Linked DNA regions of Homo sapiens. The protein of the gene in region 2 purifies or fractionates together with the protein of the main gene of each other region. This does not show direct contact. Each region holds a gene or a part of one and is shown on either strand. Other genes may lie near its edges.

Region 1 (7,796 bases), on a different chromosome or scaffold from region 2:
CTCCATCCTTTACATCAGAGAGCTGAAAAAAAAAAGTGTGCAAATAATAAAGTGCTTGATGAATAGTGCTCCAGTATCTTTTCTATACACTTTATGGACAAATTCAAGTTTTTAAAATGTGCATTAAAGGCTGGGTGTGGTGGCTCACACCTGTAATCCTAGCACTTTGGGAGGCTGAGGAGGGTGAAGGGCTTGAGCCTATGAGTCTGGGACCAGCCTCAGCAACACAGCGAGACCCCCATCTCTATAAAAAATTAGCCAGTGGTCCCAGCTATTTGGGAGCCTGAGGTGGGAGGATCACTTGAGCCTGGGAAAGCCTGGATGACAAAGTAAGACTCTGACTCAAAAAAAGAAAAGAGAAGAAAAAAGTGCATTAAAAAAGGCAAAGTTAAATGCTTAACATGGAAAATGCCCATAATATGATGTTGAAAAGGATAAGACATAATACTGTATAAACAGTATAATCACAACTAGTAATATGAATATGCATAAAAAATGTACATTAGTAAGTTAACAGTGATTATCTCTGGCTGATAAATTACAGGTGATTTAAATTTTATTTATGCTTTTTTATACTTTCTAAATTTCTACAATGAGCAGATATTATAATCAGAAAAATATTTTTAAATTTTTTTCAGTGTCTATAAGGGTAGATCTGCATTTATCAAGAAATCTAGATATTAGGTAAAAAGGACCTTTATAGAATACCCAGTCTAATACTCGAAGTAGATCCACTATTATATAATTAAAAGCTTATGACTAAAAATCCATTAAACATTTCCCATTCCCTGAAAGTACTTTATGTTCTTGCTGTTCTGTGCTCTAGAAATGTCTTTCATCTCTGCTTACTGAAATCTTAATCCTACTTTCAAGGAACTTTGTATTTGCTCCTTCCTTTCAAGAAGACTTTCTTAATCATCCAAAGCAAACATAAGCGATTTCTTTCATTTGGAAGCCTCAAAAGCATTCTTTGGCCGGTGTGGTGGCTCACGCCTGTAATCCCAGCACTTTGGGAGGCTGAGGCGGGCGGATCATGAGGTCAGAAGATCGAGACCATCCTGGCTAACATGGTGAAATCCCGTCTCTACTAAAAATACAAAAAAGCTGGGCGTGGTGGTGGGTGCCTGTAGTCCCAGCTATTCGGGAGACTGAGGCAGGAGAATGGCGTGAACCCGGGAGGCGGAGCTTGCAGTGAGCTGAGATGGCACCACTGCACTCCAGCCTGGGTGACAGAGTGAGACTCTGCCTCAAAAAAAAAAAAAAAAAAAAAAAAAGAATGCTTTTGTTTTTGAGACTGCAACCTCTCCTGGGTTCAAGTGATTCTCCTGCCTCAGCCTCCTGAGTAGTTAGGATTACAGGCGTGTGCCACCATGCCTGGCTAATTTTTGTATTTTTAGTAGAGACCGGGTTTCACCATGTTGGTCAGGCTGGTCTTAAACTCCTGACCTTGTGATCCGCCTGCCTCAGCCTCCCGAAGTGCTGGGATTACAGGCGTGAGCCACTGCACCCAGCCCTCAAAAGCATTCTTGCTCCTGGTCCCTGGCAACCACTCTGTCTGCTTTCTATCACTACAAATGAGACTTGTCTTTTCCAGAGTTTCATACAAATGGAATCACATGGTCTACACTATTTTTTTTTTTTTGGTCTGGTTTCTCTCCCTCAGTGTAATATTCATTAACAGGCAGATGATAAACAAATTATATCCATACAATGGGTTACCATTCAGTATAAAGAAGGCATGAACTCCTGATACATGTTAAGTCAGCTATGGGTGGGTTGTCCCACATTCTAACCTATGGAAGGGGCCCTGGGCAGTTAGCAAGGAGCAGGGACCTTCCAGCCCTGAGGGAAGTTCCACAGTTCTTTGGACTCAGTTATCCTTTCTCCATCAGCTCTCATCCATGGTGATGGTGGGCCACCTCTCACACAAGGACAGACTACTTCCAAGAGGTCCCACTAAATTCAAATAGCATTACAAGAACTAAAAGATGAAAGAAATTAGCTTGCACAAGAGTCTAGTTATTCAGGAAGCACATATTTAAGAAAGGGGTGGGGTGTTGGGACTGTCAACCATTCACTAAGTGTAGGGAGACATTACTCTCATATCCTTATACAGAGTAGAAACCATCTGAGAAATTGGAAATATTAAAATTATAAATGTGAATATCTTATTTTAAAATAAAATTCTTAAGAACTTTTTAATGGGTGTAGAAACATCATAACTTTATTTACAAAGATAATGAACTTGCCACAGTCGGGACCATAGATCTTTGGAGACAGGTGGGTATATATCTTCCAAAGGCATTTCTGTTTAAGACAAGGAACATACTGTGTTCTTCAGTCGCAAAACGATACATTACATTCTAAATGTGCATTCATATAACTGTTCAAAGTAATTTCTTTTTACATACAGATAACCTTAAATACTTAAACTTATGTAATAGTTTGCCATTTTCAAAACTAGCACTACCAAAGTTAAAAACTTTACCCTAAAAAGCTTTTAAAAAGCATAACTATTTCTGCTTTTCTGACCAAGGAACACAGAGAAAACTATTTCAAGACCCTGACTCTTAAGTGATGCTATTTTGGGAATGTGTGTATCATAATTCTTGATAGAAAATTTTTGTTTTGCTTTCCAAATCTAAAGTAAAATATCCTCTGCAAAAAAGCAATAGGTAAGACACTTCCCTCAAGAAAACTCTCCCATACTCACCAAAGCTACTTTAGTTGATATATTTAGACTTTTCAGTTCATTTACCCTGTTCCTCCATTGATTTATTAAACGTTGGACAGAATTTAGCTGAAAACGGAAGACAGAAAAATAACAGTTCAATATTGTATGTTTAAGTTAGTTTCTTCAATAAAAACTTCACATACTTCTTTGCCAAAATCACAAAAGGTTTATGTAACAGTTTTATGGCCCATGACTTGCAAAATTTGCATTGACTTGGCCTATTTGTCAAAGATATGCCAGCTCCAGTTCCCTCTCCCGTTCAACTCCTTGTATCATCTGGTTAGTATCACAAGTACCTGGCAGCACGTAGTTAGTTATATTTGGATGGGCGGTGAATACATGTACTAGTTGAAATGCATGATCATGACTGTAGAAACAGAAAAATACAGCATTTAAACTGCTTCCTTCAGGTACTCAACTTATTCTAGTCAAGATTTTTAATTTTTTTTGATATTTGATATATGAGGATGTTAATCTGTATTACAGACTGTATCTTATTTAACTTTGTTTTTCTAGCATTCATCACTGGATTGGTACCTAACAGATGTTCAATAAATATCTGTCAAATGATAAAAGGGTTTCATTTCTGGGATTGACTGTTGGGTAATTTATAATAAAAATAGTAATATTCCTAATTATTAAAGTAAAAATATATTATCATTTTAATAACCAACCAAATTCAATGAAAATAATATAGAAAAGAAAAATAGCCTACTCCTGAAAAAAGATCATAGACCTCATCGGTTTTGCCAAAACACAAGCCACGATAAAGAAAGCAGTAATTAAGAGCTCATCTGTTATTGCAGTAGATTAATAGGAAACAAACTTACATAACTCTGTAAGTTATTGCTGGTTAAGAAGTTATGGTATTCAAGCCTCAATTCCTCTGGTGAAATGTCTGTAAAACCTGAAGTGAGGAATCAATCGGAATCTTTAAAATAAATGCCAATAATTTTGATAGTAAAGCTAGAGGTGCTAAACAAGAAAATATCTAATGTTGATTAGAAAATTTTCATAACCATGAGGAAGAAACTTAAAGCCTACACTCTACTTAATGTTTAATAAAGTGTAAAATTACAGTAAAATATAGTTGGTTATTCTGATCTTTAAATGGGGAAGATTTTCTAAAGATAAGTGGCGTAGAATGAACAACAAACACAGGAGAAAGATTTGACTACATTTATATTCAAACTTTTATTTTAAAAATTCTGCCAGAAACTATACTAAGCAAAATTACAAGGCAAATGGTACACTAGGAAAATTGCAATTTTAACATATATGACAAGAGAAGAACTAATGCCCTAATGTACAAATAGCTCTTACAAATAAATGAGAAAAGTAAATGAATTTGGGCAAAGATAATGAACAGGCAATTCACACACAAAAAAAATCAAATAGTAAATAAATGAAATAAAGTTAAATGCAACTTAAAATAGAGATAAAATGCTTTACTTATCAGACTGGCAGAAATTTTAAAAGCTGGTATTTACTGTTGTTCCAAATGTGGTGAAATGTATCATTTCCTAAATTACCGTTAAGGGAATTAAAATGGTACAAGTTTTCTGGGAGGGATAATTGTTAATAAGCATCACAAGCCTGAAAAACATTCATATCCTGTGACTTATAATACAATTTATAGGATTTAACCTTGGGAAATAGTTATATATGTAAACAAAGGTTGCTATGTATAAGGGTGTTCATTCTAATATTTTTAGTACCAGAGACAAACTGAAAGCAAAAATTAGAATATAAAACTAGGGCCGGGCACGGTGGCTCACGCCTGTAGTTGCAGCACTTTGGGAGGCTGAGGCGGATGGATCACGAGGTCAGGAAATTGAGACCATCCTGGCTAACATGGTGAAACCCCCTCTCTACTAAAAATACAAAAAATTAGCCGGGTGTGGTGGCATGAGCCTGTAATCCCAGCTACTCGGGAGGCTGAGGCAGGAGAATTGCTTGAACTTGGGAGGCAGAGGTTGCAGTGAGCCAAGACTGCGCCACTGCACTCCAGCCTGGGCAACAAAGCGAGACTCCGTCTCAAAACAAAAACAAAAACAAAAGCAAAAACAAAAAAAACTGGATTACAGCCGGGCGCGGTGGCTCACGCCTGTAGTCCCAGCACTTTGGGAGACCAAGGCCGGTGGATCACCTGAGGCCAGAAGTTCAAGACCAGCCGGGCCAACACGGCGAAACCCTGTTTCTACTAAAAATACCAAAATTAGCTCGGCGTGGTGGCATATGCCTATAATCCGAGCTACTCGGGAGACTGAGACTGGAGAATCGCTTGAACCCGGAAGGCCAGCCGAGGCTGTAGTGAGCTGAGATGGCGCCACTGCACTCCAGCCTGGGCAACAAAGAGCGAAACTCTGTCTCAAAAAAACAAAACAAAACAAAAAACAAAGAAAAACTAGATTATGATCCTAATCATATATATGTATACGTATATATGTATAGGTGAGAGGTGACAGCTTGCTGGCAGCCCTCACATTCCTCACTCGCTCTGGGTACCTCCTCTACCTGGGCTCCCACTTTGGTGGCACTTGAGGAGACCTTCAGCCCACCGCTGCACTGTGGGAGCCCCTTTCTGGGCTGGCCAAGGCCTGAGCTGGCTCCCTCAGCTTGCAGGGAGGTGTGGAGGGAGAGGCGCGAGTGGCAACCAGAGCTACCCAGGGCCCTTGCTGGCCAGCTGGAGTTCCGAGTGGGCGTGGGCTTGGTGGGCCCCACACTCAGAGCTGCCGGCTGGCCCTGCCGGGCAATGAGAAGCTTAGCACCCGGGCCAGCGGCTGCGGAGGGTGTGCTGGGTCCTCAGCAGTGCCGGCCCACCGGCGCTGCGCTGGATTTCTTGCCGGGTCTTAGCTGCCTCCCTGCGGGGCAGGGCTCGGGACCTGCAGCCCGCCATGCCTGAGCCTCCCCCTCACCTCCGTGCGCTCCTGAGCAGCCTGAGCCTCCACGAGGAGCGCCACCCCCTGCTCCACCGGCACCCAGTCCCATCGACCACCCAAGGGCTGAGGAGTGTGGGCACACACCGCGGGACTGGCGGGTAGCTCCACCTGTGGCCCTGGTGTGGAATCCACTGGGTGAGGCCAGCTGGGCTCCTGAGTCTGGTGGGGACTTGGAGAACCTTTATGTCTAGCTAGGGGATTGTAAATACACCAATCAGCACTCTGTGTCTAGCTCAAGGTTTGTAAACACACCAATCAGCACCCTGTGTGTAGGTCAGGGTTTGTAAATACACCAATCAACACTGTATCTAGCTACTCTGGTTGGGACTTGGAGAACCTTTGTGTCCACACTCTGTATCTAGCTAATCTAGTGGGGACTTGGAGAACCTTTGTGTCTAGCTCAGGGATTGTAAACGCACCAATCAGCACCCTGTCAAAACAGACCACTTGGCTCTCTGTAAAATGAACCAATCAGCACGATGTGGGTGGGGCCAGATAAGAGAATAAAAGCAGGCTGCCCCAGCCAGCAGTGGCAACCCGCTCAGCTCCTCTTCCACACTGTGGAAGCTTCGTTCTTTTGCTGTTTGCAATAAATCTTGCTGTTGCTCACTCTTTGGGTCCACATTGCCTTTATGAGCTGTAACACTCACCGCGAAGGTCTTCAGCCTCACTCCTGAAGCCAGCGAGACCACGAACCCACTGGGAGGAACAAACAACTCCAGACGGGCCGCCTTAAGAGCCGTAACACTCACCGCGAAGGTCCACAGCTTCACTCCTGAGCCAGCGAGACCACGGACCCCACCAGAAGGAATAAACTCCGAACACATCTGAACATCAGAAGGAACAAACTCCGGACACGATGTCTTTAAGAACTGTAACACTCACCGCGAGGGTCCGTGGCTTCATTCTTGAAGTCAGTGAGACCAAGAACCCACCAATTCCGGACACATAGGTATACATATATACACACATAGAACAACTTATACATCCCTGTACAAGTGGACCCTTGCAGTTCTGTTCAAAGGTCAACTGTACACACAGCTGTACAGGGTCCACTTGTACAGGGGCCACTTGTACAGGGATTTTCTTCCGCCTCTGCCACTCCTGAGACAGCAAGACCACACCCACCTATCCCTCTGCTACTCAACATAAAGACAATAAGGATGAAGACTTTTATGATGATCCACTTCCACTATGTGAATGGTCAATATATTTTCTTATCCTTATGATTTTCTTTTTCTTTTTTTTTTTTTTTTTGAGATGAAGTCTTGCTCTGTTGCCCAGGCTGGAGTGCAGTGGCATCATCTCGGCTTACTGCAACCTCGGCCTCCTGGGTTCAGGCAATTCTCCTGCCTCAGCCTCCACAGTAGTTGGGATTACAGGCATGCACCACCAAGCCCGGCTAATTTTTTTTGTATTTTTAGTAGAGATGGGGTTTCACCACATTGGCCAGGTTGGTCTCGAACTCCTGACCTTGTGATCCACCCGCCTCAGCCTCCCAAAGTGCCGAGATTACAGGCGTGAGCCACCGCGCCTGATCCGTTATGATTTTCTTAACATTTTCTTTTCTCTTACAGTACGTTATTAGTAGTTAAGCTTTTGGGGAGTCAAAGCTTATACGTGGATTTTTGACTGCACAGAGGATCAGTGCCGCTAAACTTTATGTTGTTCAAGGGTCAATTGTATACATAAACAAGAAATATGTTTGTGTGTGTATATGTTTCGAAAGAAATATACTAAAATGTAGTAGTTACCTCTGTGATATCAGGTTATTTTTATTTTATTTATATATTTCTGTACTTTCCAAGTTTTCTAAAGCAAAAGCTGTAACTTGTTTTTTATTTTTGAGACACAGTCTCATTCCTGTCACCCAGGCTGGAGTGCAGTGGCTCACTGCCGCCTTGACTTCCTAGGCTCCAGTGATCCTCCCATCTCAACCTCCTGAGTAGCTGGGACTATAGGAATGTGCCACCACACCCTGGTAGAGACAGGGTTTCGCCAAGTTGCCCAGGTTGGTCTCAAATTCTTGGGCTCAAGTGATCCACCTGCCTCAGCCTCCCAAAGTGCTAGGATTACAAGCATGAGCCACCACATCTGGCCCAAAAGCTGTAACTTTTATA
Region 2 (7,796 bases):
GTTTCTAGGATATAATTGCTAGGTCATAAGGCAAGTACCATGCTAAGTTGTACTAGGTAATGCTCTAAATTTAATTTTCCAAAGTGGTTGCGCTGATGTATGCACTTACCATTAGTGTGTAAATGTCCTAATTACACCATATTTTCACCAATCACCAAAATTTGATATAGTCAGGATTTTAAATTTTGGCCATCTTGTCAATATAAAAATGATATACTGTGAGTATATATTTAACTTTAAAAAATGATGTTCTTATGGCCAGGCATGGTGGCTCATGTCTGTAATCCCAGTACTTTGGGCGACCAGGGCAGGCAGATTGCTTGAGCCCCGGAGTTTGAGACCAGCCTGGGCAACATGATGAAACCCATCTCTACAAAAAAATACAAAAATATTAGCCAAGTGTGGTGGCACATGACTGTAGTCCCAGTTACTTGGGAGGCTGAGGTGGGAGGATGGCTTGAACCTGGGAGACAGAGGTTGCAGTGAGCCGAGACTGTGCCACTGCATTCCAGCCTGGGCGACAAGAGCGAAAATCCCTCTCAAAAATAATAATAATAAGTAAATATAAGTAAAAATTATGTTCTATTTTCTGGTTTTATGAATAAGTAGTCCCCAAAGTGACCTTTGGGTTCGTTTTTGGAATGCAAATTGTGGGTATTGTTAAGTAAAACACTATAGAATTTTAATTTTTTATTTGCTTAGTAATTTGTAGTATATAAGATCTTCTATGATATTTAAAAAAAATCAACCTGGTTAGCTTTTAGTTAATTTCAGGACATATTTTGTGTGTATTATAATTTCATAGCAGTATTTATTTTGCTACTTAAAGATGGAAAAATCTAAAGCTGGTTTTGCTGAAAATTTTAAGTTTAAAACACAAAAATAAATTAATTGTACATTAATCTTCTTTTTCCTCTTCTAATTGGTGCATATGTTTACTTTTACTAGTGATAAACCATTTGTATTTTGGTTGCTTAGAGAAGGACTTGTAATAAAGTAAAAACATTTACAACTTTATAAGTTAATGCCTTTTTAAAGCCAAGAGATTGTAAATGATAGGACAGTATCCAGCATAATAAGGAAATAATTGTACAGAAAGACAACCTTAAAGTAAGATTGGCCTCTGGTGAGAATTCTTTTGTGAATTTAAAAAACACCTTTTATGTTTTAGCACCAGTATGCATGAGCGGGTGAACCGAACAGAAAGACAGTTTCGATCACTTCCAGCTAACCAACAGAAACTACTTCCTCAGTTTCTTCTTCACTTGGACAAGATCCGGAAATGCATTGATCATAATCAAGAAATACTACTGACCATTGTGAATGATTGCATACATATGTTTGAAAATAAAGAATATGGAGAAGATGTATGTGAAAGTTTGTTCTATTTCTGTTTATTTTAGGGTCAACCTCTGTATTTTGAGGTCTTTTATTTTCTGGATTTCATTTTTATAATCTGGCACAGGCTATTTGCTCTACTCAGAAAGTTTTAACTTAAATGTTCAGTCATTTGATTAGGCTTAATAGCCAGAGACTGGATCTGTTCACTTGTTTTCCTTTTTTAAGTACTAATATAACTGTTGAGATTTTGATGCATTTTGACATAATGTTCTGTTTTGGAATACAGGGTTAGTGACTTAAATTTTTAAAAGCAACTTTACTAGCTAGAAATTAATTTCCCTTGCTTAACTCATATTTTTTCAGTGTCTTGTATCTATTGCTGTTCATCTTTTATTGTAAGAAATTGTTTTCACTTATAAATCTCAAGGGACTGGCAGTACATAGAAACTGAAGTCCTCTTTTTGTATCCACAGGATGGATACAGTTGGGCCACTCCAGTGTGAGCCTCTCCATGCTGCCCCATCAATGACCTGGAGGGACTTTCTTCCCTCTCTTAGAGAGGATGTTCGGTCTCCATAGCAGCTCAGTTTGGTCCTCTCCTGAGTAAAGACTGCTTAATTATATGGTGGTTTTATGATTAATGGACCTTAATCTTTTGAGGGTAGCAGTGAGACCACCAAACTCTTTTCATTTAGGATCTCAAGCTGCACTTGAACCCCAGTTGAGGTGAGAGGCTAGTGATTTATCCACTAAACCACCTATATAGCCCCTTAGTAGCATGTCTATTTAACCATAATATAAGTGGATTACTCTCTCAGAAGCTAATTGATGTCTGTTTTTTAAACAGGGGAATGGAAAGATTATGCCAGCATCTACATTTGACATGGATAAGTTAAAATCCACGCTGAAACAGTTTGTGAGAGACTGGAGTGAAACTGGGAAAGCAGAAAGGGATGCCTGTTACCAGCCAATCATTAAAGAAATTTTAAAAAATTTTCCAAAAGAGAGATGGTAAATAGTACCTCATTTTTAACCAAGTTTTTAAAGTGTATGAACACTTGAGTTTCTTGATAAAATGTTTCACAGTCTCGCTTCATTGTTATAGTTGCTGTGTGCCTGTATGTTTTACATGTGTAAGTGTTAACATTTGTTATTGGATGCTCTGTGTGAGATTACAGTTGTTATTTTGAATAATTTTTATGCTGGTGCTTAGGGGAAATTACTTAGAAATTAAATAATAAGGTTAGGTCGAAAATTATCAATGATGTGTATCTTTTTATAATTTGCTTTATGGCAAAGCAAAAAAACTAAACTTTTAATTCCCCTCATTATGACATAGTTGTAAACAAGTGAGGGATCTGTACCTCTGAGCAAGCAGAGATTCTTAACTTTTTTATGCCTTGGAACCATTGTTCAGTCTGAAGCCCATGGTCTGCTTTTCAGAATAATTTTTTTTTTATTTTATTTATTTATTTATTTATTTATTTATTTTTTTGAGACAGTCTCACTCTCTTGACCAGGCTGGAGTGCAGTGGTGTGGTCTTGGTTCACTGCGACCTCTGCCTCCTGGGTTCAAGTGATTCTCATGCCTCAGACTCCGAAGTAGCTGGGACTGCAGGCTTACACCACCACGCCTGGCTAATTTTTGTGTTTTTGGTAGAGACATGGGCTCACCATGTTGGCCAGGCTGGTCTCGAACTCCTGACCTCAAGTGATCCGCCTGTGTCTTCCTCCCAAAGTGCTGGGATTACAGGTGTGAGCTACCTCACCTGGCCCAGAATAACAATTTTAAGTGAATAAATTTAAGTGCATATGATTACAAAGAAAACTGATTTTGAAATACAGTTATCAAAATATTTAAAAAGTAAATTTGTGATGCATGTTTTTTTAAATCATATATCACTTTAAATACAATTTAGCTGCAAGTATAATTATGAAATGTATTATGAAAATGCTGAATGGGATATACACTGTTTTGAGAACTTCAGCTAATGTGAAGTGAAAATATGTGTGATTTCTCTTCGTGATAAAGTCATAGGTATTGCTAAAACTATTGTTTGTTGCCTGCATCCGTAATTGAGGGGAAAAAATCAGTTTCTGAAATTAAAATGTAATTTTTTCCCATTCCCTTCAGAGACTCAGTGAATTCTATCCACAGACCTCTTGATGGATAGAATTTAATCCACCTAACCTCTGTCCCAGGTTAGGAACCCCTGATTTAGGGGTATATATTTAACGAAAGCTATTGGATGGAATTCAGTCTTATTTAAAGATCTTTTAGAGAGGCTCCTTTTCCTCCTCTCCTTTGCCTCCGTATTGATTGACAACTTTACGTTTGAGTATTTGCTTTCAGAAATTTCAATACATATGTGTCTCTTCTCTCTCTTTATTTTTTGTTAGGACATTTTATTTTATTGATTATTATTTATTTATTTATTATTTTTATTTTTCACTCTGTTGCCCAGGCTGGGGTGCAGTGGCGCTGCTTACTGCAACCTCCGCCTCCTGGGCTCAAGTGATTCTTGTTCCTCAGCCTCCCGAGTAGCTGGGATTACAGACACCTACCACTATGCCTGGCTATTTTAACTATTTTGAAATAACTTTAAAATTACAGATAAATTGCATGAATTATATGGAGACCTCCTGAATTCACTTATACTTTTTACTTGAATTCACCAGTTTTTAACATTTTGCCACATTTGCTTTTATTGTTTCCTCTTCCGTCTTCCCTCCCTCCCTCTTTCCCTTGCATTATGTATGTGTGTGTCTGAAACCATTGAGAAAATTTAACCCTGAATACTGTTAGGTAATTTACAGTCTATATTCAAGTTTCATAATTTACTGTGGTTCATACTGATAACTCTTAATTCCAGTCCCAACTCTATAGGGTTATCCTTGGTTTTCCCTCTTTTCTGTATCTGTTTACCTCACTTCCAACAACATCAATACGTTTACTTATTCGCCCAGTTGTCTACAGTACACACAGAATGGTTTCAGAATTGCTTCATCCATACCTCTGTGAAAAAGAAACCTACTAAAAGGAGTTCGGGATTTGCTAATAGTTATTTTTCCCTTAGACTAAGGTTGTATAGTGAATTTATTCTTTGCAGTTTACCCAAATTAGCTCTCCCTTTAATCTTCAGCCTCCTGGTGTTTTATTCCCTCCCTTTATTCTATACCCCATTTGGATAATCAGTATCATTGGCATCTTGTTTATTCATCCTTTTATTCTTGGGGTTTTTTTTTTTTTTTTTTTTTAAGTAAGTGGATGTGGTTTTTTTTTTTTTCTCTCTCTCTCTCTTTTTTTTGACACAAAGTGTTGCTCTGTCATCCAGGCTGTAGTGCAGTGGTGTTATCGTAGCTCACTGTAGCCTTAAACTCCTGGGCTCAAGTACTCCTCCCACCTCAGCCTCCCAGCTAATTTTTTAGTATTTTTTGTAGAGGCAGGGGTCTTGCTATGTTGAACAGGCTGGTCTTGAACTCCCGGCCTCAAGTGATCCTCCTGCCTCTGCCTCCCAAAATATTGGGATTACAGGCATAAACCACTGTGCCTGGCCTTTTTGTTTTTCTTTATAATTACCCTCTTTGGTCATCCACAAAAGATAATATAGCATACATGTATTCTGTACCTTGCTTTTTTCACTTAGTGTATCCTGGAAATAGCTATGCTGTCATTTCACAGAGATCTTCAGTCATTTTTTTTTTTCCCAGCTGAAGATTACTCTGTTATTTGGATGTATCATAGTTTATTCAACCAACTTTCTCCTACGTTAGGTTATTTAGGTAGTTGGCAGTATCTAGCAATTATACATAATGCTAAAATTAATAACTTTATGCATATGTATTTTTATATTATTGGAGGTATAACTTTAATTTTTATTTAAAAATAACTTTATTTGATAATCTTTTAAAAAATCCATAATATAATTTCAGAAGAAATTTCTCCTGATTTCCCCTTACCACATTTTAGAATATAAATAATGCAGAAGGATCTGTTTATTTTTCTTTGCAGCAGTTCCTGACCAGTCCATGGTGAGAAATATCAGTTGGCACTTAATTGCACCATAATAAATTATACCCAGTAAGGATGATTTTTCAGGTCTCCGTGCATGGGTTATGGAGATTTTCCATCATGCATCTTTTTCTGCTGCAATTATAGGGCCTGTATATACTTATGAGAATTGGAGCTAATATCAAAGACAAAAAATTGTGGGGCCCTTTCCCCGACAGTCCACCAAGTTTTGAGGAAAAGAAGTATCAGTTGAAATAGCTCTGAAGAATTTATCTTCCTGGTTCTGATAAGTAGATCTCATGGTCTCTGATTTAACAGTACATATAGATAAGATTTTTTTTTTTTTTTTGAGACGGAGTCTTGCTCAGTCGCCCAGGCTGGAGTGCAGTGGCACGATCTCGGCTCACTGCAACCTCCGCCTCCCGGGTTCACGCCATTCTGCTGCCTCAGCCTCCCGAGTAGCTAGGACTACAGACGCCCGCCACGACGCCTGGCTAATTTTTTTTTTTATATTTTTAGTAGAGACGGGGTAGATAAGATTTTTTAAAAACACAGTGTAACAACTTGAACTTTGCCGTGCAAACTCTGTAACCCACTGTCAACATAGTTCTGTATTTGGGCATGGATCATTCTGAAGAAAAATGGAGCTCAAATTTTTAAAAAATTCTTAAAACTTGAAGACCTGTCCAGGTGTGGTGGCTCACGCCTGTAATCCCAGCACTTAGGCTGAGCCGGATGGATCACTTGAGGTCAAGAGTTCGAGATCAGCCTGGCTAACATGGCGAAACCCCGTCTCTACTAAAAATACAAAAATTAGCTGGGCATGGTGGTGCACACCTGTAATTCTAGCTACTCAGGAGTCTGAGGCAGGAGAATTGTTTGAACCTGGGAGGCAGAGGTTGCAGTGAGTCAAGATCATGCCACTGAACTCCAGCCTGGCCAGTAGAGCAAGGCTATCTCAAAGAAAAAAAAAAAAAAAAAACCAAAAACTTGAAGACCCTCAGTACCTGGGCTCTTAACTGACCCAACATATTAATGTACATTCAGAGCTCAGATATAAGTGATATTCAGTCACATCTCAAATGGTCAAGGATATATAGTGTTTGGCATCAAGACCTTGAAGCTCACATTTGCTAGCAGAAAAATCTCAGTTCCTTTCATCGGGTATGTGTGCAGGAGAGTATCTTTAATTTAAATTCTTAGAAGTGGGATTGCTGCATAACACATTGATTTCAGTTGCTATGGGTCAGGAGTCTGGGCTTGGCTTAACTGGTTCTTCTGTGTAGGAGCTTACAAGGCAGCAATCCACGTGTCTGCCGGGCTGTGTTTTCACCTGGAGACTTGACTGGGGAAGAATCTGTCACTCATATTTCATTTTGTTTAATTGCAGTTGTAGTAGTGAGGCAGAATTGTTTTCACTGTGGCTGTAGGACTGAGGGTCTTAGCTGCTCTCTGTTTGTCAGTTGGAAGCCTGCCTCATCTCCTAGAGGCAACCCACAGTTCCTTGTCTTTCCCAAAAGGACCACTTCATCAAGCCAGCAAGGAGGGTGTCTAGATCAAGCAAGCTGTCAACCGTCTTACAGTGTTGAACAGTCACAGAGCTGGGTGTCAAGGCTCATGTCTATAATCCCAGTACTTTGAGAGACTGAGATGGGAGAATCACTTGAGGCCAGGAATTCAAGACCAACTTGGGCAATGTAGTGAGACCTCATCTCTACTAAAAATTTGAATATTAGGTGAGGTGGCATGCACTTGTATAGTCCTGGCTACTCTGGAGGTGGATGCCTGGCAAGGGGATCATTTGAGCCCAGGAATTCAAAGTTGCAGTGATAAGATTACTGCATTCCAGCCTGGGCAACAGAGCAAGACCCTGTCTCAATAATAATAATAATAATGACAATCACAGGAGGGACATCTCATCACCTTTGCCATATTCTGTTGGGTAGAAACAAGACATGGGGACCAGGAGGTAGGGAGCGTGGGAGCACCACTACAGGGTCTGTCTGCCACAGTCATTACTATGTTCTTCTATAAGGGTTGCACTGTTTTGTCTGTCTACTGGCAGTGTATCAAAGTGCCTGTTTATGCACAGCCCTGACAAATACTGTAGTTTTAAGCCTTTGACCTTTTGCCAACCTGATGGGTGGGAAATTATATGTTGGCATAGTCTTAATTTGCATTTCTCTTATGATGAGTGAAACTGAACATCTTCATATGTTAAAGGGTCATGTTACATGTTTTTTTTTTTGAGAATTATATATTTATGTCTTTTGCCCTCAGTTTTTTATTGAGGTGAATTGCATATAACAAAAGTAATCATTTTAAATAATTCAGGGACATTCAGTACTTCACAGTATTGTACATCTGTCACCACTGTGTAGATCCAAAACATTTCATCAACCCAGAATAAAACCTCATACCCATTAAGCAGTTACTCCCCATT
Region 3 (7,625 bases), about 53 Mb from region 2:
GAAAATATTTCCACTGGATTTTTTCCACCAGTCCCCTTACAGCCCTCATTGTTTTAGGAATCTCTCTCAGGTTTTTTCTGACCTAAACCAGCAGGAAGTCGTCCTGGGCTGTAAGCACCATCACTTGCTTTTTTTTTTTTTCTGATTTCACAAGTGTGGTGTTTTCCCAAGGCTCCCTTCCCAAGCTCAGTGCAAACCTCTCACTCCCAAGTTTCTTTGAGGCCACTTGCCCCCAAGCACTTCACAATAGACCCTCGAGGGCTTGTGTCCATTTGGCCTTTTACAAGTGTAATGCCAATTTCATTGATTTTTGTTTCTTTTGGCCTGATTTGTATCTCTGGAATGCATTTATTCTTGAAATATTTGTGTGATTTTACAAAAAGCTTTTGTAATCAGTTATTTAAGGCTCCATTTGATGATTTCCTTTACCCAACCAGTCCTCATCCCTCCTCTAAAAAATGATTAAGTAAAATGCTGCAGGACAGCCAGTAGACATTTTTAAAGTACTTGGTGCCTGAAACATCAGGCTTCTCATTTCATTTTAGCTCAGGTTGGTGCTTTCACATTGTAATCAATGAACTGTCAGGAGGGAACAAACTGTAAGAAGGATTGCTTGGTGTTTTAGGGTAGATCACTTTAGCTATTAGGAAGAGGATGGGGTAGTGTACAGTATATATTTTTAAAATGTGAATTGGTTTCTGAATAAGAATCTGGGCCATTTTTGTTCACCATTTTTGTTCGTACTGTGCTAACCTCTGCCCTTCTGATTCTAGCTAGTATTGGCCTGGGTGGTCCAGTCTTCTCACCTCTCAGCCACTCTGACTCAACTCTAGAGAATTTCTTCTCTGTTCTTTTTTCTTCTGGAGACAGGTCTCTGTCACCCACACTGAGTGCAATGGCGGGAACATGGCTCACTGCAGCCTTGACTTCCCTAGCTCAAGCAATCCTCCCACCTCAGCCTCCACAGTAGCTGAGAGCACAAGTGTATGCCACCATGCCCATCTAATTTTATTATTTTTTGTAGAGACAGATCTCACCACATTGCCCAGGTTGGTCTTGAATTCCTGGGCCCAAGTGAACCTCTCATTTTGGCCCCCCAGAGTGCTGGGATTACAGGGGTGAGCCACCACACCCAGCCTTCTCTGTGTTCTTGAATCCACCTAGGCATCTGGATTTCAAAGACCAGAAATCTCTTTTCTCTACCAAATTTTGAGGATATTTATAGTTTCCAGCTTTCAGTTTTTCCAATGAAGGTAATTCCAGCTACCACTGCCAAAAAAACTAAGCCCATTTTCATACTCTTAACGTAAATAGACAAGAACTTATAATAGGTGAAAGACCTTCCCGAGAAAGGACAATTGACAAACTTCCACCAGCATGTATATATATCTGTATAACTCATTATTATTTTTGCCAAACTAGAGAAAACCTCAGTGCAGGGCACTGCTATGTAACTCTGGTGTGAGCAACACCTCTCTTGGAGTCCCTTGCTGGGACTCTGGGGACTCTTCCAACAATTTTTCTTTTTAAAATATTTTTATTACAAGAAGTCCAGGGAATTTTTAAAAACTCAGAAAATGAAAATTGTTCACATTGCTCATACTCCAGAGAGAATTCTTCCTACCTCAAACTGAGATCTCACGAGGTGGTGGACAATGGAAGGGTCAGAAAGTCTGGGGTCCCAGTTAGAGCCGTCTCTGGACAATTGTGACTCATTCTATTTTTATTGAGATATAATTCACATAAAATTCACTCTTTTTATTTTTTTGAAACAGGGTCTCCCTCTGTCATCCAAGCTGGTGAGCAGTGGCACAATGATGGCTCACTACAGCCTCAGCCTCCTGGGTTTAAGCGATCTCCTGCCTCAGCCTTCTGAGTAGCTGGGAGCACAGGTGCATGCCACCATGCCTGGCTAATTTTTGGATTTTTTTTTTTTTTGGTAGAGGCAGGTCTCATCATGTTGTCCAGGTTGGTCTCAAACTCCTGGGCTCAAGCCATCCTCCTACCTTGGCCTCCCAAACTGCTGGGATTACAAGCATGAGCCACCATACCTGGCCTAGAATTCACCCTTTTAAAGTGTAAATATAGGCCAGGCGTGGTCACTCACACCTGTAATCCCAGCACTTTGGGAGGCCGAGGCGGGTGGATCACCTGAGGTCAGGAGTTCGAGACCAGCCTGGCCAACATGGTGAAACCCTGTCTCTACTAAAAATACAAAAATTAGCCGGGAGTGGTGGTGGACGCCTGTAGTCCCAGCTACTTGGTAGGTTGAGGCAGGAGAATCACTTGAACCCAGGAGGTGGAGGTTGCAGTGATCCAAGATCACGCCACTGCACTCCTGCCTGGGCAACACGGCGAGATTCTGTCTCGAAAAGATAAAGTGTATATATAATTCAATGGTTTGTAGTATATTCACCAAGTTGTGTAGCCATCACCATTATCTAATTCTAGACCTAGTTTTTTCTTTTTTCGAAATGGAGTCTCTCTCTGTCACCCAGGCTACAGTGCAGTGGCACCATCTCGGCTCACTGCAGCCTCTGCCTCCAGAGTTCAAGGGATCCTCCTGCATCAGCCTGTGGGGACTATAGGTGCATGGCACTTTGCCTGGCTAATTTTTGTATTTTTTGTAGAGACAGGGTTTTGCCATGTTGCCCAGGCTTGTCTGAAACTCCTGACCTCAGGTGATCTGCCCACCTTGGCCTTCCAAAGTGCTGGGATTACGGCACCCAGCCAACCAATTTCATCACTCCCAAAAAAGAAACGCCATACCCATTAGCAGTCACTCCCCATTCCCCTCCCCCAGCCCCTGGCAACTAGTCATAAAGTTTCTCTGGCTCTATAGATTTGTCTCTTCTGGATATTTCACATAAGTGGAATTGTCCAACATGTGGCCATTCATGACTGGCTTCTCTCAGCATAATGCTTTCAAGATTGATGTTGCAGCGTATCATCAGCACTTTATTTTTATGGCCCCATAACATTCCATTATATAGATGTGGTGTTTCCTCCTGCCAAACAGGGCTGGTTGGGATTCCAAAGAAGCACTATGGCCGGGCGCAGTGGCTCATGCCTGTAATCCCAACGCTTTGGGAGGTCGAGGTGGGTGGATCAACTGAGGTCAGGAGTTCGAGACCAGCCTGACCAACATGGTGAAACCCCGCCTCTGCTAAAAATACAAAATAGCTGGGCGTGGTGGCTGGCGCGTGTAGTCCCAGCTACACGGGGAGCTGAGGCAGGAGAATCGCTTGAACCCGGGAGGCGGAGGTTGCAGTGAGCCGAGATCGAGCCACTGTACTCCAGCCTGGGGGACAGAGCAAGACTCTGTCTCAAAAAAGCAGCATTAAACCCAAAACATTTATTAGGGAAGCTTACAGAGTGGGCTGCAGCAATTCTCGCGACAGACAGAGAGAAGCGGTGTTTCACCTAGGTACATCCCCAGCGAGGGGTCAGGGTATGAAGTTTATATGAGGGTTTATGGAATTTGGCTAAAAGCAGGGGTCAGTTTCAGCGTTTTGGGCAATAACCTAGATATCCTTAGTGCCTAGGGATATGCAAGGCCCGTGTTTGGTTGCAAGTCTGCAGGAAAAAACTTGCAGCTGGCTGGGTCACAGGGCGGTCAAGGCACTCTGATACTTGGTCAGTGCACAGAAAGCGGGGGAACTCGGGAACCGCGCACATAGTACTATATTTTATTTATCCATTCACCAATGGATGGACGTTTGGGTTGCTTTCACTTTTTGGCTATTATGAATAACACTGCTGTGAACATTCATGGACAAGTTTTTATATATACATAGGTTTCATTTCTTTGGCGTATTTTATATATATATATATATTTACCTAGGAGAATTGCTGGGTCAAATGGTAATTGTTTAACCTTTTGAGGAACTGCCAGACTGTCTTCCACAGCAGGTGCTTCATTTTACAGTCCCATGAGCAGTGTATGAGGGTTCCAGTTTCTGCACAGTCTCAAGGCACAGACAAATTTTCAGCAGCCCCGGGGATTGGGAGCGGTGGTTACCTCTGCGGAACGTGCCCCGACAGCCAAGCCCTGCGCGCAGGCGCACTGGTGGGAGGGCGGGAACGCGGGAGCGTCGCCGGAGGTGGGGCGTGCAGGCGTTAGGGGCGGGGCTGTGCTGCGCGCGCGTCCCGGAAGCAGAAGCCTGTGTGGCCTTCCCGGCGGCTGATTCGAGGGCTTGTTTGGTCAGAAGGGGGGCGTCAGAGAAGCTGCCCCTTAGCCAACCATGCCGTCTGAGGGTCGCTGCTGGGAGACCTTGAAGGCCCTACGCAGTTCCGACAAAGGTCGCCTTTGCTACTACCGCGACTGGCTGCTGCGGCGCGAGGTGAGCGGTGGCCCCGGAGGACGTAGGCCTTTCCGGCCCCTCGCGACCGAAACCTTCTCCCTAGCCGTTGGCACGTTCTGCTCCCGGGAACCCGTGCAGTCTAACAACCTGCATTTATTTCTTGACTTCTGTGTGTACATCCCTCTGTCCTGGGGTTTCTGTCCTCTTCAGCCTATTTTAGCGTTTCGGGGAGCTCCCCTGACTTCACAGGTGCCCCGCGCTCTGAAGGCTTCATTGCTACCCTCCGCCAGTTGGGCGCCTTCTCCGTTCTGCTGTTGTCAAAGCAATCTCGGCCCCAGGTTCAGTTAACTTACTGTATGTCTCATGTGCTGGGAGCTCTAGAGTTTGCGACGAACGATTGACACGACCTAATCCATTGCTACTAGTGAAATGACCAAATTTTTAGATTGATTTGGCAGACCTGGAAAGTGAATGGGGGCGTGGTCACCGTACCTAGCATTTGCAAAGCTCTGCGCGAGAAGTGGAGGGATGTGGAGAGTTAAGGCCGAGCTCCCATTCCCGAGTCGCTGCTAGTTAGCTACAGATAAGGCGTTGTCCTGCATCCTCAGACTTCTTGGGAAACAATCCTAAAGTATTTCCCTGTCTTTTATGTTGTTGACAGTTTTGAAAAATACAGACCTTACATTCTGTAGGTTGACTGCCAGCATATGTGCTTTCAAACCACCAGACCAAGGTTAAGCATTCTTGGCAGGAATACCACAGAAATGATGCCATGGCTTTCTCAGTAAGTCACATGAGGAGGCACACAGATGTCAACCCATCCCAACACTGGTGATGCTAATCTTGATCACCTGGTTACGTTATTATCTGCCTGGTCTCTCCGTTTAAAATTCGTCATTTTTCCCTTAGTAATTGTTGGGAAGTAATAATACCAGTATCCTTTTTTCTGGGCAAACCTTAATCCTCCATGGCTTTAGCATTCATTGATGTTTTCCACATGAATCGATACCTCTATGACGTTGCCAGATCCTGTTTCTTTATATCCGCTATTCCTTCTGCATTTGTTAGTTGGCATTCTACTGTAAGGAGGTGCTTTCTATTTTATTCAGTGAGTTGTAATCCATTACTTTTATTATTTATTTATTTTATTTTAAATGTCCCAGATTTTGTAAGCTTGTATCAAAATAATCACATGCAAGGCTAGGCGTGGTGGCTCAGGCCCGTAATCCCAGCACGTTGGGAGGCCGAGGGGGACGGATCACTTGAGGTCAAGAGTTCGCGACCAGCCTGGCCAACATGGTGAAACCGCATCTCTACTAAAAATACAAAATTAGCCGAGCATGGTGGTGCATGCCTGTAATCCCAGCTACTCGGGAGACTGAGGCATGAGAATTGCTTGAACCCTGGAAGCAGAGGTTGCAGTGAGCCGAGATTGTGCTGCTGCACTCAAGCCTGGGTGACAGAGTGAGACTGTGTCTCAAAAAAAAAAATGTAGCCTTGTAAATATGTACAACAATTATGTATTCATAAGAATTAAAAAGAAAAATGTCCCAGATTTGGCTACTGGGCACCTCATTAAGTTGGTTCCTGTGTTCCTGTGACATATTTCCATCTTTCATTGACATTTCTTTACTTTTTGACACAAAAAGATGTCCCAGGTGCAAGTTTCCCTGTCTTAATCCTGGAATCAGCTATTTCTCCAAAGAGGCTGACTCTTTTGAAGTGGAGGATGGTGCTGTATTGGCAAACCAAGATCTGGGAGTTGAGTGTGTTGAGATTCTTGATTGGGTACCATTGCTTCTAGGCCTTCTCAGTAGACAGAGCTAGGAAATAATACATATCTAAATATGTACACACATCACCACACACACATTTATGTACTGTCTATTTGTGTGTACATATATATTATAAAACCATGACTTCATACTGATAAATGCCACTTCCAACCCAGCACTTCACTTTTCTTTCTAATCTTACCCCATCCATGTTTGTAAATATGTTACCTAGCAGTGAGAAGTTTGGCTCCTGTTATTCTCAATATGTTTACTTATTTGCTCAATCAGTTTACTTTATCTCATTGTAGCAATCTCTGAACTACTCTAGTTTTTTCATTTATTTATTATATCATAGGTAATCAGTACTTATTTTCTCATACAAAGATGTTCCACGCTCATCTTATATTTTTCTGCCTCCAGTTCTGGAACTTACCTTTTCTGCAGAGACCCCTGGTTTCCTTTGATTTAAAATTATATTTACAAACCAAGATCTGGTACTAGATATGCTCATTATTACTACTAAGGGTGTATACATACATATCCATATCTATTTCTATTTTTTAAAATATTATTAGGCTGGTTGTGGTGACTCATGCCCATAATCCCAACACTTTGCGAGGCTGAGGCAGGACGAGTGCTTGAGGCCAGTTCAAGCTGGGAGCCAGGCTTGGTGTCTCACACCTGCAATCCCAGCACTTTGGTAAGTCAAGGTGGGCAGATCACTTGAGCCCAGAAGTTCGACACCAGCCTGGGCAATGTGGAGAAACCTCACCTCTACAAAAAATACAAAAAAATTAACCAGGTGTGGTGGTGCGTGCCTGTAGTCCCTGCTCCTTGAGAGGCTGAGGTGGGAGTATTACCTGAGCATGAAAAGTTGAGGCTGCAGTGAGCCGTGATCACGCCACTGCACTCCAGCCTGGGGAACAGAATGAGAGCCTGTCTCTCAAAAAAAAAAAAAAAAAAATAGTCGGGCGTGGTGGCTCACGCCTGTAATCCCAACACTTTGGGAGGCTGAGGTGGGTGGATCACCTGAGGTCAGGAGTTTGAGACCAGCCTGGCCAACATGGTGAAACCCTGTCTCTAGTAATAATACAAAAATTAGCCGGGTGTGGTGGTCGACACCTGTAATCCCAGCTGCTCGGGAGGCTGAAGCAGGAGAATTGCTTGAACCCGGGAGGTGGAGGTTGCAGTGAGCTGAGATCGTGCCACTGCACTCCAGCCTGGGTGACAGAGCAAGACTCCATCTCAAAAAAAAGGCTGGGCACACAGTGGCTCACGCCTGTAATCCCAGCACTTTGGGAGGCTGAGGCGGGTGGATCGCCTGAGGTCAGGAGTTCGAGACCAGCCTGACTAACATGGAGAAAACCCCGTATCTACTAAAAGTACAAAATTAGCCAGGCATGGTGGTGCATGCCTGTAATCCCAGCTACTCAGGAGGCTGAGGCAGGAGAATCACTTGAACCTGGGAGGTGGAGGTTGTGGTGAGCCAAGATCGTGCCATTGCACTCCAGCCTGGGCAACAAGAGCGAAACTCCATCTCAAAAAA
Region 4 (7,766 bases), on a different chromosome or scaffold from region 2:
AGACTGTTTCAGACAGTATGGCTATTATACACTGCAGAGCATATCAGGTTCACTGCTGGCCACAGAACCACCAGCAGCTCCAGCAGCAGCAGTGCTAAGCAAAACAATCAATCTGGTTTCTTACAGGCCCTTGAATGTTGCCTGTTTAGCAAAACGCTTTTGCAAATCACTTCCAAGTATACAGGTAATTTGCATCCTCAGTGTCTTTTTTTTTTTTTTTTTTTACATTTTCCTACATATTTTCACAGGCTAAAATTTTACGGCTATACTCCTTGTGACAGCAGATCCACTGAGGGGGAAGGAAGCAAATGGTAGGCACTGTGGCAGGCTTGCAATAAATGTACTGATTAGAGGCGGGAATGAAATGAAGTACAGTGTGGTGGTGAAGACACTGAAGTCAGACTGCTTGCTATGTGAGCTTAAGCAAGTTATTTAAGTCACTGAGCCTCAGTTTCCCCATCTGTAATGTGATTATAATAACTGCACTTACTTCATAGACTGCTATGATAGACTACTGGGACATTTAACTGAGAAAATGCATGTAAGTGCTCATCCTAATACAAAATAAATGGTTTGTTGCTATTATTTAATTTTTAAACAGCCCTGCCGGTTAGGCATTACCATCCTCATTTCACAGATGAGGCAGTTGTTGCACAGGTGGTACCAGGATTAGAATCCAGAACTGCCCAACCCTGGGGCTCAAACTCTTCCTACCACCTGCCAGCTGAAAAGATCCCCCATGTTTTGTGACTTTCAAAGAATCAAAAGCCCCCTAGGTTTGACTATCTTAGGACAATGAAATCCTGTGTCTTCTAATAGTGATTATGAGATGCAGGGAAGCTCTATCACAAGAGGAGAAGGTGAAATAAACTGGTTACTAAGCTATAATAAGGGCCTCCCCCAGGGCTCCGAAAACAGACTGGAAGACAGGGAGATGGTTGTGGGGGAGGGGAATCAGCAAAAAGGCACAGATTGAGATTCTGGATAGAGCGGCATGTCAAGGAATCAGAAGAGCTGACTGACAGCATAACTGTACGAGCAGTCATTTTTACCACTCCAGGCAATAAAAACATGGAGTGTCTTTGTCATTAGGTTTGAGACTCCTAGCATTTGATAAGCAACTCTTGGAGATACATAATATCTAACAGATTGGAAGCAAAACTGACATTATTCTGCTGTCATTCAAAATAAACATGTACATCACATCCCACAGTCAGGAAAACAAACCTAAAACTTTGTGACCTGAGATTAAAAAAAACAAAAAAACAAACAAAACCCACAAAAAACCGCACACGCTGCTTAGATCTGGTCCCCAAAATAAATCATACCTTGAACATTTCCTATAAATTATCAATGTCTAGAGACAAGGCTTTTGTTAATGAGATAATAAAGTGAGAAAAGCTTTTGGTAGATAAGCTGGTAGAAAAGTTGATGGTAGATAAACACACTAATGTAAACTTGGTACTCTTGGTCATATTGGTTTTTTCCCACTTAAAACACCTGTTATGTTTTTTATTTGGCAAGGCAGTCATCGGGAGCCCTGACTCCTTTACACCCTTTTGTGAGTAAACTTCTTTGCAGTTTTACATATCCTTGTATGAGTTTCCTTTCATGGGAACACATTAAAAGCTTTGATAAGTCCTGCAATAAATAAATTTTAATTTAGCATTTCAAAACTTATCTGGAGGCCCTACAGTCTATGAGGGCATGAACTTTGATTTCACACCTCTGTCACTTGGAAGCTAAATGACCTTAGGCAAGTCGCTTCAATGCTGAGGCTCAGTTTTACGATCTGTGGAAGAGCGCTGGTTGCTGGATTATACACTACAGTACCTAAGAGCCGCAGCACATTGTAAGTCCCCAACAAACATGACTAAACACTTAAACAGAAGTGATCCCTTCTCAACATTCCAACCCAATCTTCATTTATATGGAGCAACATCCTACAGAACACCCCTGTTTGGGAAACAGAATTAAAGCTTTCAAGTCAAGCTATCTCCAGGTATACAAGGAAAAAACCAAGATGATCCTGATTTAGGTCCTTGTGCCTCTACTAAGGTGTAAAATTTTAGGCAAATTTCAAGTCTTTCTGAGCATAAGATTCCTTATTTGTAAAATAAGATACTACAGAGTTGAGATTCAATTATAAAGCATTATTACATAAATGTGTACTGTTTTGTGGACACTTCTTAGATGAGGTACGGGAATAAATGGTAGAATTAAACCATAGAGCGAGGGGAGGAATACAGAGGTTTTTCTAGGAGGCTACAAGCTGCTTTACAGTGCACAATGACCTAGGAATACTTCCTCCAGCAGGAGAAACTTTATACAAATAAAAATACGTAAACACACACAAACCCGTCTTCACAAAACACCTTCTAGTACAAATAACCTAGTAAAAGTCTTTTTATAGACACTAGGTGCAAATTTCTGACAACAGCTTAACATAAGCCACCTGGGCCTTGGATAAATTGAACAGTAAATGTACACTAATGCTAACAGAAAACTTACTACACAGTCACGTCTCAACTATTCATACCAATGAAGAGAAGTAACAACATAGAAAATAAACTGTTTATTACACAAACTCTATAACTGTTTTTAAGCAATGTTTCCCATAAAAATTATTAAATGAAATTTGCATTTTCCAAGCATACAATTCAATTTGCGTTTTCCAAACATACAATTCAATAGGACTAGACTCCATTACCAGTAAGCCACAAGCTGACCAAGCAATGAGGGTGTTACACAACCACACTATTCTATTTCATAGGAGCAGTCGTAGTGTAGCTATCTGGCTATTTTCTACAATAAACCATCCATTACCGTCGCATTTCTCCTCGTAAATGGCTCTCTCAGTAAGATAAATGAGTGTCAACGTCTTTCGGTCTCAGTTTCCTGCACTGTAAAATGGTAATAATAACTACTAAGTTGTCTTACTGTGAAGTCTGATGATAATGAATATAAAGGACTTGGAAATATGCAGGGCGCTTCGCCGATATTCACAATATGCTACCTGTCGTTATTTTCCACACAACAACTTTTACTTGTTAACTCTCTGCAAGTTTAGATTGCATCTGGATTCTCCAAACTTTGAGGCCCTCATAATCGATTAACAAATTACTCCTATGTGGTATCCCCATTTGTAACCGTCCTCTCGGCGTCCCTTTACTCAACTTCAAATCTTTTCCAGTTAAAGCGTAAGCCCCAGAGCCTTCCCGACAGCGCCCCGGCATCCTGCACGGCCCTGGCTAGGACGTCCTTCCTCCCAGCCCACAGGGGCCACGCTTCAAACTCGGGGCGTAGCCCCCCGCGCTGGCCTCGCCCAGCGTCTCGGCCACGCATCCCCCGGATCCCCGGCTGTGGCGGCAGCGCTCGCTCTGCCTCGCAAAGCCCCGCCGCGAACAGCCGAGTAACTTTCCGAGTCCCGCTCTAGCCTCAGGTTCCCGGACCACAGCACTGGCGCGCACCGGCCCCCCTGCGGCCTGGGGGAGCGGCCCGAAGCTCCTGGCTCCAGCGCACTGACCTGCAAGTGATCTGCTTGGTGCTCATGGTGGCTGGGCTGAGGGACCGTCGTCGTGCCGCCGCCTCTCGCAGCCGCTGCCGCCTCGGCCTTGGCCCTGGCCCGGCCCATCCCGCGTAGCCGCGTCACGCCGGCGCACGCCGGCGCACGCCGCCCCTCCGGTGTGGCACCTTTGTAGCGCCGGCGGGTAACCTAGCCGTCGTCACAATTGGTTCCGCACCGGGGATCGGGCCGGCTGTCCCGGCATCCCTGCTCTCGGTGTCCCGCACTTCCAAGCCTCCGGGGCGGAGCCTGGCTGGCATCTTAGTCCTGCCAGTCTTATCCCGATGCCTACTGTTAGTGCCTGCGATTCTGCCCCGATCGCCAAGAGTATTCCTTAGGGATCTCCCGCCTCCTTCGAGGCACTTCACCACTCCTGGGGAAACTCCAGCCTCTCCTCTTAATCCCGGATGCCCCTATCCATTCATACTCGCACTCACTGGGCACCCTTCTCAGGCCCTGCCTCAACTGTTCCCGCCGGACCTCGCCTCCCACTTAAGGAAATTCCTTAGCTCTCTCCCAACTGCTCTTTCCCCAAATCTCTACTTCCACAAGTTTTAGTCTTCATTTTCTTTCCTGCCAGTCTTGTGCTGCTCGTCTTCCATTTCCTATGGTGGAAACCCCAAAAGTTATTTTTGACACTTCCCTCTAGCTCTCTATACCCTGCAGATTCTGCTCCCACACCTCTGTCCAATGCGTCCTCTTCTGCCCCCTTTCCACCGTCCCTTCTACCTAGCACCATGCGATACCTTTTTTTTTAATTATTATTATTTTATTTTTTATTTTTTTGAGACGGAGTTTCTCTCTTGTTGCCCAGGCTGGAGTGCAGTGGGGCGATCTCGGCTCACTGCAACCTCCGCCTCCCGGGTTCAAGCGATTCTCCTGCCTCTCAGCCTTCCACGTAGCTGGAATTACAGGCGTGCACGCCTGGCCAGCCATGCGATAGCCTTTTAACTGGTCTTCTGGCTTCCGTTCCTGGTAAAAATCTATTTTTAAAACATAAATCGGATCATGTCATTCACCTTTTAATCTTACAATGGTTTCTCATTGCTTAAAAACTCGAGATACATAACATGCACAATATAAGTGCACCAAACACATTCTATGAATTTTTGCACATGCATACACTCATGAAACTACCACCCAGATCAAAATAAAGAATTTTTTGTTTTGTTTTGAGGCAGGGTCTTGCTCTGTCGCCCAGGCTGGAGTGCAGTGGCGCCATCATAGTTCAAGCAGTCCTCTGCCTTAACCTCCCCAGCAGCTGGGAATACAGGTGCGCGACACCATGCTCGACTAAACTTCAAAATGCTGGAGTAAGGAGAGGTTGAGCCGGAAGGATCCTTTGAGCATAGTTCACTGCAGTCGAGGCTGCAGGGGGTGGGTGGGGGCTGGATATTATCGACACCCCAGAAGGGCTTCCTTATGGTCCTTCCCAGGCAATACTTTACAAAGGTCATTGCTTGGGTTCATCTCTATCACTATAAATTAGTTTAACTGTTCTTGACTTTCATATAAATAATAATTCAGTACCTACGCTTTTGTCTGCCTTCTTTTGACCAACATTTTATCTGTGAGATCTTTCCATGTTATGTATGTATAGCTGTATGTTCTTTTTTTACTTTGCTATAAAAATATTGAGTCTTCCAATGAATGAGCATGGTATATACTTCCAATTATTTAGAACTTTTGAAATTTTTCTCAGGAATTTGGAAGTATACTGGAAATTTTGTTTTCAGTGTCTTGAATATTGCATTTTAACTCATAACACATTTGATCCATGCAATTCATGCTCATAAAAATTACACGTCTTTTTTTTTTTTTTTTTTGAGACGGAGTCTTGCTCTGTCACCCAGGCTGGAGTGCAGTGGCATGCTCTTGGCTCACTGCAACCTCCACCTCCCGTGTTCAAGCGATTCTCCTGTCTCAGCCTCCGGAGTAGCTGGGATTATACAGGCGCACGCTGCCACGCCCAGCTGATTTTTTGTGTTTTAGTAGCGACGGGGTTTCACCCTGTTGCCCAGGCTGGTCTCGAACTTCTGAGCTCAGGCAATCCACCCGCCTCGGCCTCCCAAAGTGCTGGGATTACGGGCGAGAGCCACCGCGCCCAGCCCATGCCACTTATTTTTAAAATTCAGCTTATCTCATTCTTTATGGAATACATTCACGATCTGAACGTTATTATGTTCAAATATTTTAAAAGCGTAAAGTGAAAAGTCTCAGTCTCCTGTCAATTTAGTTCCCGCCTCTTCAAAACAAAAAGCAGAAACATTTTTTAAAACCTCAAAACCTGGCCACTGTTATCAAATTTGTATACATCTTTCCAGAATTTCTTTAAATATACACAAGTAAATACATATATATTATTTTCTCCTTTTTGTAGAAAAGATAACATAACGTACTGTTCTGCACAGCGTACATAATCAGTGGAGATTTTTCCATATCAGTACATAGAGCCTCTTCCTCCTTTCGTAGAACTGTATAGTATTCCGTTGTACGACTATGCCATAAGTTATTTCATCAGCCTTGTACTGCTGGTGCCCTTTAGGGTGTCTGTGCAAATAAAACACTGGATCGGGCACATGTTCTCAGGATCTCCTGAGGTCTGTGTCATGGGCAATATATATATATATTTTTATATTTCATATATATTTCATATATTTCATATATATTTATGAAAAAATAATACAACACTGGATCAACGACAGCCAGTGTGCACTTCCACAAGCTGTACCCAACAGCTTGGTTCCTGCCACTGTCATGGTACTTAGCACTTAGACTTTTCCCGAAGGATGCAAGCAGTCTCCACTTGGGGTTCTTCCGGCGTTATCTGGCGCTGGGCACTAAACACCAAGTCCTGCCCCACCCGGGACGTGGAACTCACTTTCCTCACCCCCAGGGAACCCGCGCTGGCAGAGAAGGCAGGGCCACTCGCTCCTGCCCGTAGCAGGGGCGCGTAAAACTGCGTCTGCTTGCTAACCACCAGCTCCCGTTCTCGCCCCTTAGGAAAAGCAACTTTGCTACCAAACACTCGGGAGAAAAAGGCTATCAGATAGAAGCGGGTGAAGAAGCTGAGAAAACAGAAGAGAAGGGTGGCTGCCAGCTCGGGACTCAAAATGGCCATCTGGGCGTAGAGACACAGAGACCCTTTGCGCAGACGTGCGCCGAGGGTCTTGCAAAGCTTTCGTTTTCTTTGTGTGCCGACCTGCCCCTAGAAGCGGTTTTCGATGCTATTTTAAATGATATTCCTAAAATTTCCGAATTGCTTGTTGCTTATATATAGAAATACACTGGATCTTTGTATACTGACTTGGGATTCAGCTCCATGCTAAATTTTGAATTAATTCTAATGGTTTATTTGTAGTTAGTTATCGATTTTCTATACACAATCACGCCATCAGCAAATAATGACAGTTTTGCTTCCTTTTCATCTTTGTATCTTTTATTTCTTTTCCTTGCCTTATTGCATGCACTGTCTACAGCCTTCAGAACAATGTTAAAGAGAAGTAGTAATAGTGTACATCTTATTTTGTTCCTGGATTCAATAAAAATATTTAATATTTTACTTTAAAATTATTTAATATTTTAATTAAAATGTTAGCCCTAGATTTTTTTAGGCTATCCATTGCCAAATTAAGAAAGTTTCTTTCTAGTTTTATTAGCATTTTTACCATGAACACATCTTGACTTTTATCACTTTTTTTTTTGCATGTATTGAGAAACCTATATTGTTTTTCCCTTTTATACTGGTAATGTATTGAATTATACTGATTGATTTTTAATGTTAACCCTACCCAATTGCTCAGGATAAACCCCACATGGCCATGATATATTTTCTATAAATCATCTATTTGTTAAAATTGTGTTTAGAATTTTTGCATCCTTGTGTATGAGAGATATTAGTCTGTAGTGTTCCTTTCTTATAATGTCCATGCCAGGTGCTGGTATCTGGGATATGCTGGTCTCATAAAATGAGTTTGGAAGTCTTTCTTTTCTATCCTCTGGAAAAGTCTGTGTAATATGGGTATTAATTTTTCCCTTAAACATCTGGAAGAATTTACCATGGAAGCCATCTCAGCCTGCAGTTTACTGTGCAGGAAGATTTTTTTTTTTTTTTTTTTTTTGGAGACCGGGTCTCACTTTGTCACCCAGGCTGGAGTGCCGTGGTGTGATCTTGGCTCACTGCAACCTCCACCTCCTGGTT

What was found.
Region 1: the proteins of CARNMT1 (region 2) and NUP42 purify together in Homo sapiens (affinity purification with mass spectrometry; 4 studies listed by BioGRID and IntAct, with this or other methods). This does not show direct contact.
Region 3: the proteins of CARNMT1 (region 2) and GLE1 purify together in Homo sapiens (affinity purification with mass spectrometry; 4 studies listed by BioGRID and IntAct, with this or other methods). This does not show direct contact.
Region 4: the proteins of CARNMT1 (region 2) and MKRN2 purify together in Homo sapiens (affinity purification with mass spectrometry; 4 studies listed by BioGRID and IntAct, with this or other methods). This does not show direct contact.

Annotation. Positions count from the first base shown.
Region 1 is NC_000007.14:23,191,684-23,199,479, reverse strand, and holds part of NUP42 (nucleoporin NUP42), read right to left. Parts: intron 3,642-7,796; coding exon 3,565-3,641; intron 2,801-3,564; coding exon 2,714-2,800; intron 2,308-2,713; coding exon of another isoform or gene 2,233-2,307; intron 23-2,232; coding exon 1-22.
Region 2 is NC_000009.12:75,010,824-75,018,619, reverse strand, and holds part of CARNMT1 (carnosine N-methyltransferase), read left to right. Parts: intron 1-1,171; coding exon 1,172-1,367; intron 1,368-2,188; coding exon 2,189-2,352; intron 2,353-7,796.
Region 3 is NC_000009.12:128,500,562-128,508,186, forward strand, and holds the start of GLE1 (mRNA export factor GLE1), read left to right. Parts: upstream 1-4,157; 5' UTR 4,158-4,244; coding exon 4,245-4,343; exon of another isoform or gene 4,344-5,412; intron 5,413-6,654; exon of another isoform or gene 6,655-6,671; coding exon of another isoform or gene 6,672-6,779; intron 6,780-7,625. UniProt on the Homo sapiens protein: Required for the export of mRNAs containing poly(A) tails from the nucleus into the cytoplasm. May be involved in the terminal step of the mRNA transport through the nuclear pore complex (NPC).
Region 4 is NC_000003.12:12,552,937-12,560,702, reverse strand, and holds the start of MKRN2 (E3 ubiquitin-protein ligase makorin-2), read right to left. Parts: upstream 3,617-7,766; 5' UTR 3,553-3,616; coding exon 3,527-3,552; intron 1-3,526. UniProt on the Homo sapiens protein: E3 ubiquitin ligase catalyzing the covalent attachment of ubiquitin moieties onto substrate proteins.